Homo sapiens: one gene and its partner. The protein of the gene in region 1 purifies or fractionates together with the protein of each later gene. This does not show direct contact. Each region holds a gene or a part of one and is shown on either strand. Other genes may lie near its edges.

Evidence for each region.
Region 2: the proteins of PARPBP (region 1) and APOO purify together in Homo sapiens (affinity purification with mass spectrometry; one large-scale study listed by BioGRID and IntAct). This does not show direct contact.

The regions. Positions count from the first base shown.
Region 1 is NC_000012.12:102,126,413-102,130,443, forward strand, and holds part of PARPBP (PCNA-interacting partner), read left to right. Parts: intron 1-734; exon of another isoform or gene 735-887; intron 888-4,031. UniProt on the Homo sapiens protein: Required to suppress inappropriate homologous recombination, thereby playing a central role DNA repair and in the maintenance of genomic stability.
Region 2 is NC_000023.11:23,880,439-23,883,938, reverse strand, and holds part of APOO (MICOS complex subunit MIC26 precursor), read left to right. Parts: intron 1-2,986; coding exon 2,987-3,094; intron 3,095-3,500. UniProt on the Homo sapiens protein: Component of the MICOS complex, a large protein complex of the mitochondrial inner membrane that plays crucial roles in the maintenance of crista junctions, inner membrane architecture, and formation of contact sites to the outer membrane.

The DNA of each region.
Region 1 (4,031 bases):
GTTTTAGGTGTTCTGTACCAGGAAGTTTTTCTGCAAATCAAGTTAGCCATATTGCACTGTTGGTGTGTCTGTTTTAAAGTTGTAACAGATGGGGCCGGGTGCTGTGGCTCACGCCTGTAATCCCATCACTTTGGGAGACTGAGGCCGGCAGATCACATGAGGTCAGGAGTTCGAGTCCAGCCTGGCCAACTTGGTGAAACCTTGTCTCTATTAAAAATTAAAAAATTAGCTGGGCGTAGTGGTAGGCGCCTGTAGTCCCAGCTACTCGGGAGGCTGAGGCAGGATTATCACTTGAACCCAGGAGGCAGAGGTTGCAGTGAGGCACTGCACTCCAGTCTGGCCGACAGAGCGAGACTCTACCTCAAAAATAAATAAATAAAATAAAATTATAACAGTATCAGCTCTTTCTGTATCTTGTTTTTTTCCATCCAACATTATTTTCAAGATCTTTTCAGGTAGTGATAGACAGAAAAGTTAATCTAATTTATTCATTTTATCACTCTCACATGTTCCTTTAATATGACTGCCATATTCTATTTATTGGTGGATCTTTAGACTGAAGTTCTTTTGTGTTATGAATAGTTTTGCCTTGAAATGAAATGTTTGCACTGAGCAAGAGGTTTTTTAGGTTCCTTATTTAAGTAGTTACATGATAGACACATTTTTATCTTACACGTGGCAGTCAGAATTTACATTTATGGGCTAGACACACTGACTCATACCTGTAATTGCAGCACTCTGAGAGTCCATGATGGGCAGATCACTTAAGCCCAGAAGTTCAAGACCAGCCTGGGCAACATGGCGAAACCTCGTCTCTACAAAAAAATACAAAAATTAGCTGGGTGTGGTGGAGTGTGCCTGTAGTCTCAGCTACTTGGGAGACTGAGGTGAGATCACTTGAGTCTGGGAGGTTGAGGCTTGCTGTGAGCCAAGATCACTCCAGTGCACTCTAGCCTGGGCAACAAAACGAGAACCTATCTCAAAAAAAGAAAAAAAAAAAAGAAATTACATTTATGTCATCAATGGAAGAGAGTGCCATTTTTTTATCCCTCTTTCCATATTAGATGTCAGAGTTTATTAGAAAAGATTAAAAAATGGTATTTCATTTTATTTTTTTGGACAGCTACCATGTTTAAAAATTTGTTTAAATGCTTATTTGATCATTTGGTATCTTTCTTTTTCATAGTAGATTCATTTTTAATAATGAAATAAACTAGAAATATTCTACATGTATATGACCTGGAGGTTGGTTCTATATAGCATTGTAAACCACCAGTAGAATAGTGTGCAATAATTAAATAGCTTGGGTACATGTACATTTATTGACATGGAAAAATATTCAAAATATATTGTTAATAAAACAGAGCAGTTTGTATTATGGCTAAGAGTAAATGCTAGGGAGTCAGTTGGCTTGGGTTCACAGCCTAATTCAGCCTTTTGACTGAGTGGCCTTAGACAAATCACTTAATTTTTAAAAAAAATTAGTTTTTTAAATTGACAAAAAATTGTATTTATTTATCATGTACAATATATTTTGAAATATGTATACATTGTGAAATGGCTTAACTGAGCAAATTAATATGCATTACCTCACATTCTTAACATTTTTGTGGTGATAACAATTAAAATGTATTCTCTGAACAGTTTTCAAGGATACAACAGTGTTATTAACTAGCAACACCATGTTGTACAATAGATCTCTTGAAATTATTCCTCCTAACAGAAACTGTATATACTTTGATGAGTATCTCCCCATCCACCCCACCCACTGTGTCCCCACATCCCCTAGTAACCATCATTGTCTTTCTACTTCTATAAGTTCACCTCTTTTGTTTTTTTGATGGAGTCTCACTCTGTCTCCCATGCTGGAGTGCAGTGGTGCAATCTCAGCTCACTGCAAGCTCCCCCTCCCGGGTTCACGCCATTTTTCTGCCTCTGCCTCCCTAGTAGCTGGGACTGCAGGCACCCGCCACCACACCCGGCTAATTTTTTGTATTTTTAGTAAAGACGGGGTTTCACCGTGTTAGCCAGGATGGTCTCGATTTCCTGACCTCGTGATCTGCCCACCTCGGCCTCCCAAAGTGCTGGGATTACAGGCATGAGCCACCGTGCCCGGCCTGTAAGTTCAACTTTTTAACACACCACTTGTAAGTGAGATTATGTGGTGTTTGTCTTTCTATGCCTGTCTTACTTTCCTTAATATAATGTTTTCCAGGTACATCCATGTTGTTACAAATGACAGGATTTCTCTCTTTTATGGGGCTGAATAGCATTCCATTGTGTATATATACCACATTTTCTATCCATTCATCCATTGATGGATACTTAGGTTGATTCCATATCTTGGCTATTGTGAACAATGCAGCAATGGCCATAGGAGTCCTGATCTCTCTTCACTACTGATTTCATTTCCTTTGGATATATACCCAGTATTGGGATTGCAGGATCATATGGTAGTTTTATTTTTTGAGAAACTTTCATACTGTAATGCTTATACTAATTACATTTCCACCAACAGTATACAAAGGATTCCCTTTTCTTCACATTTTTTTTTAACACTTTTATCTTTTCAATAATGGCCATTCTAACAGGTCATAATTTATTTTGGTTTCCATTTGCATTTTTCTGATGATTAGTAATGTTGAGCATTTTTTATATACCTCTTGGCAATTTGTGTGTCTTCTTTTTGGAAATGTCTATTCAGATCCTTTGTCCAATTCTTAAAAAACGATTATTTTTAAAATTCATTTTATTATTTAGAGACAGAGTCTCAATATGTTGCCCAGGCTGTACTTGGACTCCTAGGCTCAAGAATTCTCCTGCCTCAACCTCTGAAGTAATTGAGACTGTGGGCATACGCCACTGCATCCTGCTCTTTTGCCCATTTTTTTTTTAATGGGGTTGTTTTCTTATTGAGTTTCTTATATATTTTGGATATTAACCTTTTATCTGATACATGATTTGGATATATTTTCTCCCATTCCATAGGTTGTCTCTTCACTCTGCTGATTGTTTCCTTGGCTGTGCAGAAAGTTTTTAGTTTGATATAATCCCATTCATGTATTTTTGCTTTTGTTTTCTGTGCTTCTGGGTTTATGTCCAAAAAACCATTCCCCAGACCAATGTCATGGAGTTTTTCCTCTGTTTTTTTCTAGGACTTTTGCAGTTTCAAATGTTAAATTTAAGCCTTTAATACATTTTGATATTCATTCTTCTAGCCAATGAGCCTGGAATGTTTTTCCATTTGTTTGTACCTTCTCTGATTTCTTTGAGCAGTGTTTTGTAGTTTTCATTGTAGAGATCTTTCACCTCCCTGGTTGACTGTATTTCCAGGTATTTTATTCTTTTTATGGCAATTGTGAATGAGGTTGCATTCCTGATTTGCCTCTAGACTTGACTACTGCCCAAAGCAATTTATATATTTAATGCTAATCCTGTCAAACTTCCAGTGACATTCTTTGCAGAGCTAGAAAAAGCTCTTTTAAAATTCCTATGGAACCCAAAAAGACCCCAAATAGCTAAGGCTATCCTAAGCAAAAAGAAGAAAGCAGGTGGTATCATGCTACCTGACTTCAAACTGTATTAAAGGGCTACAGTAACCAAAACAGCATGGTATTGGTAGAAAAACAGACACATAGACCAATGGAACAGAATACAGAGCCCAGAAATAAGACCACACACCAACAACCATCTGATCTTCAACAAAGCTGATGAAAACAAGCAATGGGGAAAGGATTCCCTATTCAATAAATAGTGCTGGGATAACTGGCTAACCATGTGCAGAAGATTGAAACCGGACCTCTTCCTTAAACTACATACAAAAATCAACTCAAGATGAGGGACTTACATATAAAACCCAAAACTGGAAAAACCCTGGAAGACAACCTAGGCAATACCATTCTGGACACAGGCATGGGCAACGATTTCATGATGAAGATGCCAAAAGCAATTGCAACAAAAGCAAAAATTGACAAATGGGATCTAATTAAACTAGAGAGCTTCTACACAGCAAACAAAACTATCAACAGAGT
Region 2 (3,500 bases), on another chromosome or scaffold:
GCCGGGAGAATTCATGCTTTTGAAACAAGGGGAATTTCCCTTGTCCCTCTTACAGGGCATGTGATGGGAGTGTGGCCCACTTCTTAGGTGCCCCACTGCTCAAAACCCCTAGGGAAAGCAGGCAGATGGGCAGGTCGTGGGGAGTGTGGGCTCCAACCCCATGGCAGCGTCTAGGGGTGGATGTTTACAGCTTCTGCAGCCCCAGTGGGCGTGTGTTACGTGTGCTCTTTTAGTTTTGCTGTCAGTAGGCAGCTTGTGTTCATCAGCTCAGTTAGACCCTCTGCCTTATTGCAAGGACAGAGGGCTTTCTGTATCCTAGGGTTCTTGCCTGAGTATACCAGAAAAACCGGATCACACGTGGGCTTGGAGGATGAGTGCAAGGTTTTATTGAATGGTGGAAGTAGCACTCAGCAGATGGAAACGGAGCCAGAAGGGGTATGGAGTGGGAAGGTGGTTTTCCCCTGGAGTCAGGCCGCTTAGCAGCCAGGCTCTCCTCTGACCGCCCTCAGCCAAACTCCGCGTTGTCCTGCCGTTCTGCTGTTGGTGGCCTGCCGGAGTCTGTCACTGTGTTCTTCTGCTGGTATGTTGTTCCTTGCCTCTGCTTCTCTTGACGTCCAGCCGCTTGTGTGCCTGCCCGCTAGGGTCTCGGGGTTTTTATAGGCACAAGATGGGAGTGTGGTGGGCCAGGGTGGTCTTGGGAAATACGATATTTGGGCACAAAAACAGAAATGCCTGTCCTCACCTAGGTTGGTGGGCACAGGCCCAGGGGTGGAGCCCTAGCCAGGGACCACGCCCTTCTCTACCCAGCATTTCCCTGCCTGCCCCTCCCGTATCACTTTTCTTTTATTTATTTACTTTTTGAGACAGGGTCTCGCTCTGTTGCCCAGGCTGGAGTGCAGTGGCAGTATCTTGGCTCACTGCAATCTCCACCTCCTGGGTTCAAGCGATTCTTGTGCCTCAGCCTCCCTTATTTTATTTTTTAATCTGTCCCAGGCCAAGTGCAGTGGTTCACACCTATAATCCCAGCACTTTGGGAGGCCGCGGTGGGTGGATCGTTTGAATCCAGGAGTTTGAGACCAGCCTGGGCAACATGGCAAAACCCTGTCTCTACAAAAATTACAAAAATGAGCTGGACATGGTGGTGCATGCCTGTAGTCCCAGCTATTTGGGAGACAAGACAGGAGGAGTGCTTGAACCTGGGATGGGAAGGTTGCAGTGCAGCAGAAATCCTGCTGCTGCACTCCAACCTAGGCAACAGTGTGAGACCCTGTGTAAAAAAAAAAAAAAAAGTTTGTCCATTTATTTACATCTATCAAGTTCTTCCTACCAGAATGGAAGCCCTTTCAGGGTGAGGATATGTCTTACTCCATATTCCTATTTCTATGGCTGTGCCTAACACACAAGGCATGCTCAATAATTGTTTATTTCCTGCTCAAATGAGACAAAAGGAAATGGATGGAGGAGAGGTGGAAAATAAATGAGTGATTGATTTCTCTCTAACTATTTAGGCATGATTTAGCATCTTGGAAATCATATTACTGAGATTTGCAGTGCCTGTAATGTGAAAGATGAGGCTATTCTGTAATACAAAACGTAATGCCAGCTAAAATATAACAAAAATATCTGTTGAAACGTATGGCTGCAAATTCCCATATTTCAGAAGCAAATAAAGAGCTGAAAGCCATTAAGAAAAAAAAGGGTGGTTGTTACTTTAACTGGTTTAAAAACAATTGATACATCTTGAAGTATTAAGTGTGCATCTTGAGGTCTTAATTTCAATGCAGTTTTGCTACAGATTTCTTTTGCTTCCACGATACAGATTAGCCAGCTAGTGCTGACATTAGTTCATGTGGTTTGTGCCCATCACAATTATTAGGCAGAACCAGCAGCACCAGGATACAACCTAAGGAGATCAACGTCCCTCCTAGAAAACTGCCACGGCCTTCGCAGGAGGGGTCTGAATTTTTTTTTTTTTTTTTTTTTTTTTTTTTGAGGTGGAGTCTCGCACTGTCACCCAGGCTGGAGTGCGGTGGCACAATCTTGGTTCACTGCAACCTCCACCTCCCAGGTGCAGGTGATTCTCCTGCTTCAGCCTTCTGTGTAGCTGGGATTACAGGTGCCCGCCACCACGCCCAGCTAATTTTTTTTTTTTTTTTGTAATTTTAGTAGAGACGGGATTTCACTATGTTGGCCAGGCTGGTCTCGAATGCCTGACCTGGTGATCCACCCACCCGCCTCTGCCTTCCAAAGTGCTGGGATTACAGGCGTGAGCCACTGCGTCCAGCACATTTTTTATATTCACAATTAAATTAATAAACCATAACTCTCCTCCTCTCAGCCCATCTTTTTTTTTTTTTTTTTTTTTTTTTTTTTTTAGTGGAGCGATTATTTTGTGTGTGTGAAACAGAGTCTCACTCTATTGCCCAGGCTGGAGTGTAGTGGCATGATCATGGCTCACTGAAGCCTCAAACTCAAGAGTTCTCCCACCTCAGTCTCCTGAGTAGCTGGGACTACAGGCACACACCACCATGCCTGGCTGATTTTTTAAAAAAATATATTTTGTAGGCCAGGTGCACTGGCTCACACCTGTAATCTCAGCACTTTGGGAGGCCGAGGCGGGCGAATTACCTGAAGTCGGGAGTTCGAGACCAGCCTGGCCAACATGGCAAATCCCCATCTCTACTAAAAATACAAAAATTAGCCGGGTGTGGTGGCAGACGCCTGTAATCCCAGCTACTTGGGAGGCTGAGGTAGAAGAATCGCTTGAACCTGGGCGTTGGAGGTTGCAGTGAGCTGAGATCACGCCACTACACCGCAGCCTGGGTAACAGAGCAAGACTCCATCTTGAAAACATAAAAATAAATAAAAATAAAATAAAGCACAGTAAGCCTTTCAGGGTGGGGAGTGGCTGAGGTTATGAATATGCTCATGTTCTGCACATTCGGTCTGTAACATAGAGAGGTTTAAGATTGCTTCTGCATTTCAGGTAATTCAGAGGTCCGTGGGGCCAGCCAGCCTGAGCTTGCTCACCTTCAAAGTCTATGCAGCACCAAAAAAGGACTCACCTCCCAAAAATTCCGTGAAGGTTGATGAGGTAACATGTTGTTCATGTTGCGATATATTTTGAGTGTCTGATTTAGTTACTGTAGGATAATTTTTTACAAATTGTATATCAGGAAGATGTGACTGTTTAAAATACATTTATTTATTTATTTATTTATTTATTTATTTATTTATTTTGAGACGGAGTTTCGCTCTTGTTGCCCAGGCTGGAGTGCAATGGTGCGATCTCGGCTCATTGCAACCTCCTCCTCCTGGTTCAAGCCATTCTCCTGCCTCAGCCTCCCAAGTAGCTGGGATTATAGGCATGTGCCACCACGCCTGGCTAATTTTGTATTTTTAGTAGAGACAAGGTTTCACCATGTTGGCCAGGCTAGTCTCGAACTCCCGACCTCAGGTGATCCACCTGCCTCGGCCTCCCAAAGTGCTGGGATTACAAG